Linked DNA regions of Homo sapiens. The protein of the gene in region 3 purifies or fractionates together with the protein of the main gene of each other region. This does not show direct contact. Each region holds a gene or a part of one and is shown on either strand. Other genes may lie near its edges.

Region 1 (3,946 bases), on a different chromosome or scaffold from region 3:
GAACCTGAAGATCCTTTAATTATGCCAGTTCCCCTTCTCTTCCACTTATGGACTGCCTCTCCAAGAGCAGGGGGTCTGTTTCCCATCTGATGGACCACTTACCTTCTTTTCTTTAACTCTACTTTCTATCTCCAAAAATCCACTGAGTATTCACATTACTGATTAGCTGTGTTTTCCAGAGCCATTGCTAATCGCACGTCGACCTTACATAAAAATGGAATATTCATGCATTTTCTATGTATTTTTAAAGCCATTATTTGTGGCACAAGCTCAGTGTGCTTTCAGAGACACTGAACACTCTGTTGAAGAAACTCAAATGGCTTTTAAAATAAAAAGACAAAATCATTATCTCTGTGTAGAGGATGGTTTTATCCTTGAAGGTTTACTATTTGAAACCTCATCACAATAGAATGCTGAGGGAAGTTTTTGGAAGTACAAGCGTGATAGTTCTCAGATGATGTTTGCAAAGTTGAAATATTGTCCATACTCTTAGGAATTCAGTGGAATGCAGTAGCAGAAGCTCTCTGGTGCTTAGTGAATGAATGAAAATTTTTTTTTTTTTTACCTTGCAGGTGAAAAAGGTGTGAGGGTTGAACTCAATAAACCTTCAGATTCGGTCGGTAAAGACGTCTTCTAGAGCCTTTGATCCAGCAATACCCCACTTCACCTACAATATTGTTAACTATTTGTTAACTTGTGAATACGAATAAATGGGATAAAGAAAAATAGACAACCAGTTCGCATTTTAATAAGGAAACAGAAACAACTTTTTGTGTTGCATCAAACAGAAGATTTTGACTGCTGTGACTTTGTACTGCATGATCAACTTCAAATCTGTGATTGCTTACAGGAGGAAGATAAGCTACTAATTGAAAATGGTTTTTACATCTGGATATGAAATAAGTGCCCTGTGTAGAATTTTTTTCATTCTTATATTTTGCCAGATCTGTTATCTAGCTGAGTTCATTTCATCTCTCCCTTTTTTATATCAAGTTTGAATTTGGGATAATTTTTCTATATTAGGTACAATTTATCTAAACTGAATTGAGAAAAAATTACAGTATTATTCCTCAAAATAACATCAATCTATTTTTGTAAACCTGTTCATACTATTAAATTTTGCCCTAAAAGACCTCTTAATAATGATTGTTGCCAGTGACTGATGATTAATTTTATTTTACTTAAAATAAGAAAAGGAGCACTTTAATTACAACTGAAAAATCAGATTGTTTTGTAGTCCTTCCTTACACTAATTTGAACTGTTAAAGATTGCTGCTTTTTTTTTGACATTGTCAATAACGAAACCTAATTGTAAAACAGTCACCATTTACTACCAATAACTTTTAGTTAATGTTTTACAAGGAAAAAGACACAAGAAGAGTTTAAATTTTTTTGTTTTGTTTTGTTTTTTTGAGACAGTCTTGCTCTGTTACCCAGGCTGGAGGGGAGTGGTGCATTCTTGGCTCACTGCAACCTCCGCCTCCCAGGTTCAAGCAATCCTCCCACCTCAGCCTCCCAACTAGCTGGGACTGCAGGCACACACCACCATGCCTGACTAATTTTTGTATGTTTAGTAGAGACGGGGTTTTGCCATGTTGCCTAGGCTGGGGTTTAAGTTAAATTTTTTAAAAAACTAAAGTGACTGGCACTAAGTGAACTTGAGATTATCCTCAGCTTCAAGTTCCTAAGATAAGGGCTTTCTTAAGCTTTCAGGTGTATGTATCCTCTAGATGTAGACAATAATGTCCCATTTCTAAGTCTTTTCCTTTTGCTTCTCCTTAAATTGATTGTACTTCCAAATTTGCTGTTATGTTTTTTTCCTAATACTGTGATCTATCTGATCTGCAGACAAGAACCTTGTCTCTGTTGAAGAGCATCAAGGGGAGATTATGTACACATTGAAACTGAAGTGTGGTGTTACTGACGGAATGTGCAGTAACTCCTCAGATATCTGTTAAGGCATTTCCCAGATGTGATGCCAGCCTTCTTACCTGTACTGAAAGATGCTTAGCTTAGAAAAAAACAAAACAGATGCAAAATCAGATAATTTTATTTTGTTTCATGGGTTTTCTTATTTACTTTTTAAACAAGGAAGGAATATTAGAAAATCACACAAGGCCTCACATACATGTTATTTAAAGAATGAATTGGGACGGATGTCTTAGACTTCACTTTCCTAGGCTTTTTAGCAAAACCTAAAGGGTGGTATCCATATTTTGCGTGAATTATGGGTGTAAGACCTTGCCCACTTAGGTTTTCTATCTCTGTCCTTGATCTTCTTTGCCAAAATGTGAGTATACAGAAATTTTCTGTATATTTCAACTTAAGACATTTTTAGCATCTGTATAGTTTGTATTCAATTTGAGACCTTTTCTATGGGAAGCTCAGTAATTTTTATTAAAAGATTGCCATTGCTATTCATGTAAAACATGGAAAAAAATTGTGTAGTGAAGCCAACAGTGGACTTAGGATGGGATTGAATGTTCAGTATAGTGATCTCACTTAGGAGAATTTGCAGGAGAAAGTGATAGTTTATTGTTTTTTCCTCGCCCATATTCAGTTTTGTTCTACTTCCTCCCCTTCCTTCCAGATGATAACATCACATCTCTACAGTAAGTGCCTCTGCCAGCCCAACCCAGGAGCGCAAGTTGTCTTTGCCATCTGGTCTATAGTACAGTGCGCGGCGTTAGGCCACAACTCAAAAGCATTATCTTTTTTAGGGTTAGTAGAAATTGTTTTATGTTGATGGGAGGTTTGTTTGATTGTCAAAATGTACAGCCACAGCCTTTTAATTTGGGAGCCCCTGTTGTCATTCAAATGTGTACCTCTACAGTTGTAAAAAGTATTAGATTCTACTATCTGTGGGTTGTGCTTGCCAGACAGGTCTTAAATTGTATATTTTTTGGAAAAGTTTATATACTCTCTTAGGAATCATTGTGAAAAGATCAAGAAATCAGGATGGCCATTTATTTAATATCCATTCATTTCATGTTAGTGGGACTATTAACTTGTCACCAAGCAGGACTCTATTTCAAACAAAATTTAAAACTGTTTGTGGCCTATATGTGTTTAATCCTGGTTAAAGATAAAGCTTCATAATGCTGTTTTTATTCAACACATTAACCAGCTGTAAAACACAGACCTTTATCAAGAGTAGGCAAAGATTTTCAGGATTCATATACAGATAGACTATAAAGTCATGTAATTTGAAAAGCAGTGTTTCATTATGAAAGAGCTCTCAAGTTGCTTGTAAAGCTAATCTAATTAAAAAGATGTATAAATGTTGTTGAAACATTATGGTGGTTATTTCCAGCTGTCTTTTTTGTTTTTCAATCCTTTATCATACATTGGCTTTCCGAATGATCCCTTTCATCAGATAAAGCTTTTCTGGCTTAGTCTAGGACATTTGTTATAACTTTTTGTAAATGATAATGAAGGAAAGAGAACAGTAAACATAGGAGTTCAACAATTTTAGAAACATCCCTGGGGTCATTGGACTGTCTGTGGGATCCATGAAGTCTGTTTGGATTCTCAGCACTTGAATTCTTGCCCTTTTAGTAGGATTTTTAAAATTATTTTAACATTCATAGCTGTTGACAGATCTGTATCACCCCTCTGCTGCAAAAGGAAGTGGGGTTAGGCATTTATCTCTAATTGTCATAGATGTACCATTGTGTATATGCAAGAAGGTTTAATTTGTGTGGTCATAACTAAAATATGAGAGCTCTTATTAAGGTGAGATCAAAATACCTGTTTATATATCTGTTATTTAAAGAAAAATTTTCCACAGTGTTTTGTTATTTTCCAGCGTTTCTTAGAACATTTGGGAATTACACTAAAATATAGCTGGGTGGATTGAAGTAAAGGGCAAATGAGTTTGAGATGAAGTTTGAGATGTGCTTTTTTATATACAAAAAGCACATCTTCCACCTTAAACAGTTGTATG
Region 2 (3,946 bases), on a different chromosome or scaffold from region 3:
CCAGAATAGCCAAAGCCACCCTAAGCAAAAAGAACAAAACTGGTGGAATCCCATTATCTAACTTCAAATTATGCTACAGACCTATCGTAACCAAAACAGCATGGTACTGTCACAAAAACAGACACGTGTACCAATAGAACAGAACAGAGAACCCAAAACCAAATCCAAACACCTACAGCAAACTCATTTTTGACAAAGGTGCCAAGAACATACACTGGGAAAAGACAAGTCTCTTTAATAAATGGTGCTGGGAAACTGGATAAACACATGCAAAATCATGAAACCAGACCCCTATCTCTTGCCATATACAAAATTCAAATCAAAATGCATTAAATACTTCAAACTGAATCTAATACAAGAAAACACTGGGGAAAATCTCCAGGACATTAGTCTGAGCAAATATTTCTTGAGCAATAGCCCACAAGCACAGGCAACCAAAGCAAACATGGACAAATGGGATCACATCAAGTTAAAAAGCTTCTGCACAGCAAAGGAAGTAATCAACAAAGTGAAGAGACAACCCACAGAACGAGAGAAAACATTTGCAAACTACCCCTCTGACAGGGGACTAATAACCAGAATATAAGGAGCTCAAACAACTCTACAGGAAAAAACCTAATAATCTGATAAAAAATGGGCAAAAGATCTGAATAGACATTCCTCAAAAGAAGACACACAAATGGTGAAAAGGTTCTCAACATCACTAATCATCAGATATCCAAAACTCAATGAGATATCATCTTGTCCCAGTTAAAATGCCTTTTATCCAAAAGTCAGGCAGTAACAAATGCTGGTGAGGATGTAAAGAAAAGGGAACCCTTGTTCACCATTGGTGGGAATGTACAACCACTACGGAGAACAGTTTGGAGGTCCCCCAAAAAACTAAAAATAGAGCTACCATATGATCGAGCAATTCCACTGCTGGGTATATATCCAAAATAAAGGAAATCAGTGTATCGAAGAGATCTGCACTCCTATGTTTGTTGCAGCACTGTTTACAATAGCTAACATTTGGAGGCAACCTAAGTGTCCATCAACAGATGAATGGATAATGAAAATGTGGTACATACACACAATGGAGTACTCGTCAGCCATAAAAAAACAGACCCAGTCATTTGCAACAACAGGGATAGAATTGGAGATCATTATGTTAACCGAAATAAGGCAGGCACAGAAAAACAAACATCACATGTTCTCACTTACTTGTGGGATCTGAACATCAAATCAACTGAATTCATGGACATAACAGAAGGATGGTTACCAGAGGCTGGGAAGGGTAATGGGGGGTTGAGTGGGAGGTGGGGATGGTTAATGGGTACAAAAAAATAGAATAAGACCTACTATTTGATAGCACAATAGGGTGACTATAGTCAATAATAACTTAATTGTATATTTTAAAATAACTTAAATAATGTAATTGGAATGTTTGTAACTCAAAGGATAAATGCTTGAGGGGATGAATACCTAATTCTTCATGATATGATTATTTCACATTACATGCCTGTACCAAAACATCCCATGTACCCCATAAATATAGACACCTATTATGTACCCACAAATTTTTTTTAAAACCCACTAAAATAAGAAGAAAAATCTATTAGGTGTGTTACTAAGAAACGTGCTGTTTAGTGGTCTACAATATTCAAAACCTCAGGGTGTGACTAAAGAAACTCATCTAAAATTATACAATGACTATTTAATGGTAGAGAAATAAATCTGAACTTATATCCATTCTAAAAATGAATAAAAACAACTTCAAAAAACTTAAGAGAAACCTGAGTTTCAAAAAGTCCAACGTTATTCTCCAAATACTTATTTAAATAAATTTACTTTGGAAAAACACGACTGTCACACTGACATAAAGCTTAAAAATATTTTATTACCTATTAAAAGTCAGTGCATTTAACACCCATTGCCTTTTAAAACCCCATATGATTCCTTATCAGACAAAATCAGATGATATTTACCATCTTAAATTCAAATAATGGCCAAAAAGTTAACAAATCTTGACTTTAAGGCAACACTCTCAACTACTAAGAAAGGGTCACGAGAGAAAAGGCCTAAAAGCAATCATAAAAGTTGTTGTCAAAAACCTTTGTATCACTGAAGACAATTGTCAAAGAGTTACTCTCAAGAAAGGCCTACTGATGAGTGAGCTGATGCTCTCAATGACTCTGAATTTTTTTTTAATTTAGGATAAATTGATTAAATATAACATAAAAGTAATGTCAGCTACAATAAACTTTGTAATGATGGAGAAATTAGCCCTGGTAAATGGAATTATAGTTCAAACTTTCTAATCAAGGTAGTATTTGTCAGTACTATTAAAATAAAACCAAAATAACAAGAAAACCTTAGGAGTTAAATGGAAAACATGTTTTCCACCTTTTCATGCGTCTATACCCCTTGAGCTATTTTCTAAGAAACGCATACTCTTCAGTATACCCTGGGTAAAGTAGCCAGACACTTCATTTAAAACAAATAAATCATGGCCCGGCACAGTGCCTCACGCCTGTAATCCCAGCACTTTGGGAGGCCAAGGCGGGCCGATCACCTGAGATCAGGAGTTTGAGACCAGCCTGGCCAACATGGTGAATGAAACCCTGTCTCTACTAAAAACACAAAAATTAATCGGGCGTGGTGGCAGGTGCCTGTAATCCCAGCTACTTGGGAGGTTGAGGCAGGAGAATCGCTTGAACCCGGGAGGCAGAGGTTGCAGTGAGCGGAGATCATGCCACTACACTCCAGCCTGGGCAACAGAGCCAGACTCTGTCTCTAAATAAATACATACATACATACATACATAAATCCTGAATTAGGTGCATGTTTCCAACTAAATATAAACTTGAAGGCAATTCACTTAGAAAAAATTTTAAAAAATATATAATGATAGCATTCTGTTCATTACCCAATGTTAAAATTAACAACAGTTTTAGCCAATGATTCAAATCTATTCAGATAATTCATTATTTTAAAAATAAGGTAAAACTTTTTTGTATCTACCTAACATTAAGTGGTCACAGCAGTATTATATTAAAAAAAAAAGGAGGAAAGATGAGAGTTAAAAATGAGCTTGCAATGGGTGCTTTCTTAAAACCACAATCATTTCTAGGTCATCTGTTTTGGTGTTGCCACAGCGACTTTGTGAATCATATGACTTTTCACCCCCTCCATAACTCAGGGGTACATTTGTTTCTGGTAAAAATATATACATTAGTGGATGTAATTTTGTTAGAGTACGTAATGTACTTTCAGCCACAACTTAGTAAACTAAATACTGGCCACTGAAAAAACATAACAGAGAGAGAAAATTATCCATATATCCACCTTTCTAAAACTGTCCATCATGTCAGCACTGAATATACTACTGTATCGTTAAGTCTGAAAACTTTTCCAACAATGACTTTACTGAAAACCTAATCTGACAAAAATTAATCAAGCACCATTGTAAAACACTCACCATGATTATTTACAAAAAGCAAATCTGATCTTATATTTAGATATACACTTACAAGAATCCTCATTTGAAATGCACAGTTAAGTATTTAATGGTGAAGTATCATGATTTCTGCAACTTACTACATATATATGTAAAAGTTGTATATTAATAAATACAGAAAGCAAATGTGGCAAAATGTTATCAATGCCAAAAGTAAGTGAAAGGTATATGGGTAGTCAGCATGTTTTTTTAACTTCCCTATGTTTGAAAAATTTCAAAGTAAAAAGCTGGGAGAACAAAAGACCCCTACTGGCTGCTACTGCCCTGAGTATATGTCCAGTGTTTTCCCTTTTGCCTCAATACCTTCCTGCCCTCATTTAAAACAACTGTTACAGAGTTATATTATGTCTTGTAAACAAAAATCACAATTCTAGGAAAGAATTTTAAAAAGCAGTTTTAAAGGCTGGCATCAGTGAATTAACTGTTTTACCTGAAAGTTAACATCTT
Region 3 (3,946 bases):
GGAAAACTTGAATACCAGCATCCAGGTGTTATTTTCTGATAACTTTTCAGTATTTTCTATTTTTCCTTCAAATCTAGATTCCAAATTACAGAAATGCAGTCATTGTAGCTAAGTCTCCTGATGCTGCAAAGAGGTAAGTAAGCTAGACATGGGTCCTGATCCCTCCTGAGTGCTCCCGAAGTCAGAATGAGCTGCTTTGGAATCCAGAGGCTGTCACTCGTGGCCTTTGAAAGCCCACTGGCTCTCATGTTAACCCCTCCATCGTTGTCATGTCCCATGCCACACACAGCTTTATCTCCAGCCTCCAGACAGCACACATGATCGCTGAGTTGCTCAGCTTTCCTCTGGGAAAACAAAGTTCCTTCAAGTTCTCAGAGAAAGGAAAGCAATGAGGCTATGAGCATTTTTCAAGCAATGGTTTTTTTTTTTGTTTTTTTTTTGAAATGGAGTTTCATTCTGTCACCTAGGCTGGAGTGCAATGGCGCGATCTCGGCTCACTGCAACCTCCGCCTCCTGGGTTCAAGCAGCTCTCCTGCCTCAGCCTCCCCAGTAGCTGGGATTACAGGCGCCTGTCACCACTCCTGGCTAGTTTTTTGTATTTTTAGTAGAGATGGGGTTTCACCATGTTCATCAGACTAGTCTTGAACTCCTGACCTCAAGTGATCTGTCTGCCTTGGTCTCCCAAAGTGCTGGGTTTACAGGCGTAAGCCACTGTGCCCGGCCCAGGCAATGGTTTTTAACGTTGTTCTTTCTTCTGAAGATGACTATCAGAATATTGGACAAAGGATAGAATCAAAATTATCTAGAATCAGGGCCAGGCGGGGTGGCTCACGCCTGTAATTCCAGCACTTTGGGAGGCCAAAGCGGGAGATCGCTTGAGCCCAGGGGTTCAAGACCAGCCTGGGCAACATAGACCCCGTCTCTACAAAATACAAAAAATAGCCAGTTGTGGCAACACATGCCTGTGGTCCCCGCTACTCGGGAGGTTGAGGTGGGAGGATCACCTGAGCCTCAGGAGGTTGAGGCTGCAGTGAGCCATGTTGACGCCACTGCACTCCAGCCTGGGTGACAGTGAGACCTTGTCTCAAAAAAAAAAAAAAATGTCTAGAATCAGATACAATCCCAAACCCTAACTCACGTGCCCTTTGAGTCATTTACATGCTGGCCTGGGCCTCACATTCTCATTTATATAAATAATGCCTTTGTATGTCCCTGAAACGTTAAATATTTTCATTTTATGGTTAAAAAATGATGCCGTAGTGATGCGTGGGATTTCTTCCTGTCAGTTTCACCATTTCCCTTTGTCCTTCTAGGGCCCAGTCCTATGCGGAGAGACTGCGTCTGGGTTTGGCCGTCATTCACGGGGAAGCTCAGTGCACGGAACTGGACATGGACGATGGTCGTCACTCCCCGCCTATGGTCAAAAATGCTACTGTGCACCCAGGCCTGGAGTTGCCATGTAAGATGAGCTCTGTGTTTTTATTTTATTTGTAAATTGAAGAAAGTTTTTTTTTGTTGGTTTTGTTGGTTTTGTTGTTGTTGTTTTGTTTTGTTTTGTTTTGTTTTTGAGATGGAGTCTCACTCTGTCACCCAGGCTAGAGTGCAGTGGCGTGATCTTGGCTGACTGCAACCTCTGCCTCCTGGGTTCAAGCAATTCTCCTGCCTCAGCCTCGTGAGTGGCAAAGATTACAGGTGTGTGCCACCACGCCCAGCTAATTTTTGTATTTTTAGTAGAGACAGGGTTTCACCATGTTGGCCAGGCTGGTCTCAAACTCCAGACCTCGTGATCTGCTCCAGACCTGGTGATCTGCTCGCCTCAGCCTCCCAGAGTGCTGGGATTACAGGCATGAGCCACTGCACCTGGCCCTGAAGAAAGTTTTAAGTAGTATGAATGGCTAGGAGTTATCGACTATGTAGATATATGCTGTCTTGTTGTTTTTTAATAATGGAATGGTATTTGCTATCCTCCGCCTTTTTTTTTTTTTTTTTGAGAAAGGATCTCCCCCTGTTGCTCTGTACAGTGGCACAGTCATGGCTCACTGCAGCCTTGACCGGGGCGCAAGTGATTCTCCCACCTCCGCCTCCTGGGTAGCTGGGACTGTAGGGGTACACTACCATGCCTGGATAGTTTTCTGTTCCTTTTTTTTTCTTTTTGTATGGAGACGGGGCTCCCTGCATTGCCCAGGCTGGTTTTGAACTTCTTTGCTCAAACAATCCTCCTGTCATGGTCTCCCAAAATGCCGAGATTACATAAGATTACAGACATGAGCCCCATGCCAGGCCCGATTTCCTCTTTTGTAAAAGGAAGTTGTGTTATACACATTTGTAGACTGTGTATGGACGGTTCTGCGTAGCACTCAGCATTCAGACGGTGTTTGATAATTTTAGCTTCAGTAAAAAAGTTGTATGTGTGATGGTGTGAAATCTTAAGCTTTTACATTATCATAAGCTGGGTGACAGCTGTTGATCAAATACCAGGCTTTGGGGATCAGGTAACTTTTATTTTTACTTATTTATTTATTTTGAGATGGAGTCTCACTCTGTCGCCAGGCTGGAGTGCAGTGGTGCAATCTTGGCTCACTGCAACCTCTTCCTCCCGGGTTCAAGCAATTCTCCTGCCTCAGCCTCTCCAGTGGCTGGGGCTATAGGTGCGCGCCAACACGCCGAGCTAATTTTTGTATTTTTAGTAGAGATGAGCTTTCACCATGTTGGCCAGGATGGTCTCGATCTCTTGACATTGTGATCCGCCTGCCTCAGCCTCCCAAAGTGCTGGGATTACAGGTGTGAGCCACCGTGCCCGGCCTATTTTTATTTATTTTTATTTTGTTTGAGACTGAACTCGTTCTGTCGCCCAGGCTGGAGTGCAGTGGCATGATCTTGGCTCACTGCAGCCTCCGCCTCTTGGGTTCAAGCAGTTCTCCTGTCTCAGCCTCCCAAGTAGCTGTGACTTCAGGCACACACCACCACACCCAGCTAATTTTTGTATTTTTAGTAGAGACAGGGTTTTACCATGTTGGTCAGGCTGGTCTCGAGCTGCTAACCTTAGGTCATCCGCCTGCCTCGACCTCCCAGTGTGCTGGGATTACAGGTGTGAGCCACCGTGCCAAGCCGTAATCTGCATTTTTAGCTTTTTATTTTCAACTGACTTTAGACTTAAAGTTGAAAGAATAGTACAGATTTCCAGCATATGCTCTTCACTCGGAGTCCCCAAATTTAACATTTATATACATGGGGTTTTTTTTTTTCCACCATTTGAGGGTGAGTTGCAGACGTAATGTCCCTTCATTCCTAAATACCTTCGTGTATATTTGTAAAGACAAAAGACTCTTATATAACCAGAGTATCATTATCAGACTCAGGAAGCTAACATTGCTGTAACACTGTAATCTACAGACCTTACTCAGGTTTCACCAGTGGTCCCAGCAGTGTCCTTTAGAGCAAAAGAATAAACTTGTTTTCTTGTTCAAGACCTAACCCAGGGTCACACATTGCATTTAGTTGTCATTTCTTTTTAGTCTCATTTAATCTGGAGTGGCTGCTTTATTCTTTGTTTCTTATGACCTTGATACTTTTGAACAGTGCGATCAAGTGATTTTGTAGACTCTCCCTTAATTGGGGCTTGTTTGTGTCCTCAGGATTAGATTCAGGTTATGCATTTTTGGCAGAAAATCACAGGAAACACATGATGTGTCCCATTACTGGTGATGTGCATTCTGATAAGTTGGTTAAGGTTTCTCTGGCAGGTTTCTCCACTGTAAAGTTACTCTTTTTTTTTTCCTCTTTGTAATTAATACTACCTCATGTTAAGACTATGTTTTAACTGTAAATATTCTGCTTCTCATCAAAATGAACATCTACTGATGATTCTTGCCTGAATCAATTATTGACTGTGATTGTTGTCAGTGTTCATTTTTCTAACTCTATCATTCCTTCTACATTTATTAGT
Region 4 (3,569 bases), on a different chromosome or scaffold from region 3:
ACATATGCTAGTCTCTCAAGTTCTCTCTTCTAGAAGTATTAAAGAGTTTACAAGAGGTATGTTTATGAACAAGTTAGAGGTTAAGATGAAAGGGGAAAATACTTTTGGGGGTAGGTCACTGGATTAGAAAATGTTTTTAGAAGTCACCTATTTTAAATAAAAATTAAGACAGCTATATATATACTGGGGTCACTGATGAAAAATGATAATTTTTTCTTCATTGATGTAAAGAGAAAATAAATAAGCAATTAAAACTTACCTTTCCCAATATTTGTGATTTAGATCCAAAAAGTCATCTAATTTTGCTATCTCCTTGAGGTACTGAGTTAATTTTAAAAGTTCTTTGTCTTTATCACGATTTAGGTGCGCTTTCATAAAAGGCCTTATCTATTAGGAAACAAACATTACTCAACACATCACAATGTGATAAGGAAAACTAACAAATCTATACTATCATTTCAATTAGAGTTAATGAGGTTAAAATATCACCAAGAACATAAATACTAAAAATTACTTTTATATTAGCCTAAATAGAAAGTCATGTATAATGTTTACAAATTACAAACTCTTCTACCTATTTTACCTAACATTATCTTTTCAATCTGAACCTGACAACACCAGCTTTCTTATTGCACTTGAATCCATACACAGCTACTCTACTTTGCAAAACTACTTAGCCTTTCCCGCCTCCTATCATTCTAGTTGCTTCTAATTAATTTCATTCACATTATTTTATTCATAAAAATTTAACCCCAATACCAGCTTGATCTAACAGTACAGTGAGATAAATTTTAACGATGATTTTTATTTTATTTTTCTATTAAATTTTTATATAGCTGAGATATCATTATACATTTATATAACCTGTTTCCTCCTACATTTTATCATAAGCATTTTTCTTTATCATTAAATTCTCTGTTAAAATCATTTTTAATTATGCAAGAGTTTTCCATAAAAAGAACTGCCATATTTTCCAAATGTTTAAGGCTGATCTATTTTATGATGAAAAAGAGTTTAAAAAGCATTATTTCAAACCACACATGTCAGAATAATAGACCGAGGTAGGGGACTGCAATTAGTAAGGAATACCATATCTTGACTTGAGTGGCGGTGCTATGAATGCATATGTTTATATGCAATCTTCATCTAGATTTGTGCATAAATCTATGCTTAAAAAGACTAGAGGACTATAAATCAAGATGGTAATAGTGTTTATCTTTGGAAAGGAAAATCATGAGTAATTTTAGTGGAATAAAATTTTTTACAAGAATTATCTTTACAGTTTGTTGAACTATAAATTTATGCACTTTTCCTTATTTTATAGCTTCAGTAAAGAATTCTGCTGTTTTGTAAAAGACACCTGCTCAAATATCTTTATACAACTCAAGATAGTCTTTCAATAATTTTAAATTAATTTTAGATAATATGATATGACTAAGATTTACTTCAAAATATTAAGGAGAGGGAAGTAGCGTATAGAGCAAACAATAACCATCCATGAATTAATAAGCTAATTTAAACTGAATGATATCTACATGGGGGTTTAAGCAATTTTATATAGTTCTGTTTACATTTGAATTTTTCTGTTATCGTTAAAAAAAAATCATACATATTCCTAAAGCACACATATTCCTAAAGCACACATGTAAGGACTGATTTCATCATACTTAGCAAAGTATTAGTATATTCTTTTGATTTGGAGAAAATGCAAATTGGTCATTAGTTTTTTTTTTTTTTGGTCATTAGTTATTAATTTTACACAGTTAACACTGAAAAATGAATGATATTTAATCATTGTCACTTACTGAGAAGCAAGAACAATGAGTGAGCCCAAAGGAGTCTACTACCATACCTATTAAGTGTAGGGAAGGGTTTAAGTATTTTTTACATACTTTTCTTCTGTCATTGGAAAAACACCACCCATCTGAAATGGACAGAAGAAAATTTTCCCAGGTGTTCTACTCTCATCAGAACAGCTTGGTGCCAGTGACCTCCACACTGTTAGCTGGCTCCCATACTGCTTGAAGGGCACCAGTCAAGAGCTGTCAAAGGGAGTCTCCTCAGAAATCAGCATTTGTGGGAGATCCCACTTCCAAAAAGGTAGTGCAGCAGTGCTGTTTCCGAGCAGCAGTGAATGTGGGGGCTGAAGACGACGCTTTACAGGGCCTTGCTTAGGCCCTGGGGATGGGAGTAAACAGAGTCATGATATGAGGATGTAGTGAAATGAGTTTCTGCATAATCCTGGGTGATATGGTAATGTTTTAAAGTATTCCTTCATTCACTTCCTAAGGACTGAAAGGTAACAAATTAACTTTTAAGCAATTAATATATAATGTACCAAAGTGTCCAAATTTAAACAGCAGGAAATTACAGGGTTGGTGGGTAGTAAATAAGATTTTCAACCCAAGGCTCTGCTAAGTTATTTTTACTTTCCAAACATTTGCTCTTAAGCACTATTAAACAACAAAACTAAAATATTCTAATGATTCTGGTTCTAAAATTTTAAATAAACAAATTAAGGGTGAAAATCTATGCACCTAATTGACTTCACTTGCTCCAGTATAACCACTGTTTACTGTACATTTTTAAAAACTGATCTAAGTGATCACTAAAAGGACAGGAAACCATCATCTTGTCTCAGGTCAAGGAAGCATTTTTAGAAACTTAAGACTGTCTAGATAAGCTGAATTCTCCTATATCATAATTTCCTTGTACAGACAATAAAAATGGAGTTTTCAGCCGATAAACTGCTTTATCCATGACCAAGATTCACATTCTTTTAGTGTAATTCTAAATTCATATTCACAGTACCTTCCATGTACTTCAAACCTTATGACTGACAAGCTTATGTTTAATAGAAGTTAACTATTTTAAAAATGAGCAGTCTTATTTTTAAGATCTACATGAAATCTTTGAGATTTCTACCAAGTGCATTATGAAAGCATGATAACAAAACACAGCATTTGAGGATATTTCTCCATTTTAGAACTCTTTCTGGGCTGGGCGCAGTGGCTCATGCCTGTAATCCTGCACTTTGAGAGGCCGAGATAGGTGGATCGCTTGAGTGCAGGACCTCGAGACCAGCCTAGGCAACATGGCGAAACCTTGTCTCTACCAAAAATACAAAAATTAGCCAGGTGTGGTAACGTGCGCCTGTAGTCCCAGTTACTTGGGAGGCTGACATGTGAGGATCACTGGAGCAAGGGAAGTCGAGGCTGCAATGAGCTCTGATCATGCCACTGCACTCCAGCCTGGGTGACAGAGCAAGACCCTGTCAGAAAACCCCACCTGTTTCTATGCCGACGTGGGCAGATCTTTAATCTTAATCTTAACCTTTAATCTTTAACCTTAAAAGAGGTTTTCATGAAGTGTTATCTTGGGTAGATTAATTTTATAAAAAAGAGGTTTTCAATAAAAGACACACAAGGACAGCCTGTGGAGTGTCTAAATCTACCTCTGGAATTAGAATTTAGGGGATGGGGACATACGTATTTTTAGGAATTCCTTCAGTGGGTCTACTGAGTACAGTCTTTTAAAAACCCTACTGTAAAGTAACATAAAGAACTAGA

What was found. Proteins that work in one complex are often made in the same cells at the same time.
Region 1: the proteins of PRPSAP1 (region 3) and EGLN1 fractionate together in Homo sapiens (co-fractionation; one large-scale study listed by BioGRID). This does not show direct contact.
Region 2: the proteins of PRPSAP1 (region 3) and ANKRD28 purify together in Homo sapiens (affinity purification with mass spectrometry; one large-scale study listed by BioGRID and IntAct). This does not show direct contact.
Region 4: the proteins of PRPSAP1 (region 3) and UBLCP1 fractionate together in Homo sapiens (co-fractionation; one large-scale study listed by BioGRID). This does not show direct contact.

What each region holds. Positions count from the first base shown.
Region 1 is NC_000001.11:231,363,102-231,367,047, reverse strand, and holds the end of EGLN1 (egl nine homolog 1), read left to right. Parts: intron 1-572; coding exon 573-637; 3' UTR 638-3,292; downstream 3,293-3,946. UniProt on the Homo sapiens protein: Cellular oxygen sensor that catalyzes, under normoxic conditions, the post-translational formation of 4-hydroxyproline in hypoxia-inducible factor (HIF) alpha proteins.
Region 2 is NC_000003.12:15,791,294-15,795,239, forward strand, and holds part of ANKRD28 (serine/threonine-protein phosphatase 6 regulatory ankyrin repeat subunit A), read right to left. Parts: coding exon 3,930-3,946; intron 1-3,929. UniProt on the Homo sapiens protein: Regulatory subunit of protein phosphatase 6 (PP6) that may be involved in the recognition of phosphoprotein substrates. Involved in the PP6-mediated dephosphorylation of NFKBIE opposing its degradation in response to TNF-alpha.
Region 3 is NC_000017.11:76,326,230-76,330,175, reverse strand, and holds part of PRPSAP1 (phosphoribosyl pyrophosphate synthase-associated protein 1), read left to right. Parts: intron 1-77; coding exon 78-133; intron 134-1,313; coding exon 1,314-1,459; intron 1,460-3,946. UniProt on the Homo sapiens protein: Seems to play a negative regulatory role in 5-phosphoribose 1-diphosphate synthesis.
Region 4 is NC_000005.10:159,280,030-159,283,598, reverse strand, and holds part of UBLCP1 (ubiquitin-like domain-containing CTD phosphatase 1), read right to left. Parts: intron 388-3,569; coding exon 260-387; intron 1-259. UniProt on the Homo sapiens protein: Dephosphorylates 26S nuclear proteasomes, thereby decreasing their proteolytic activity. Recruited to the 19S regulatory particle of the 26S proteasome through its interaction with 19S component PSMD2/RPN1.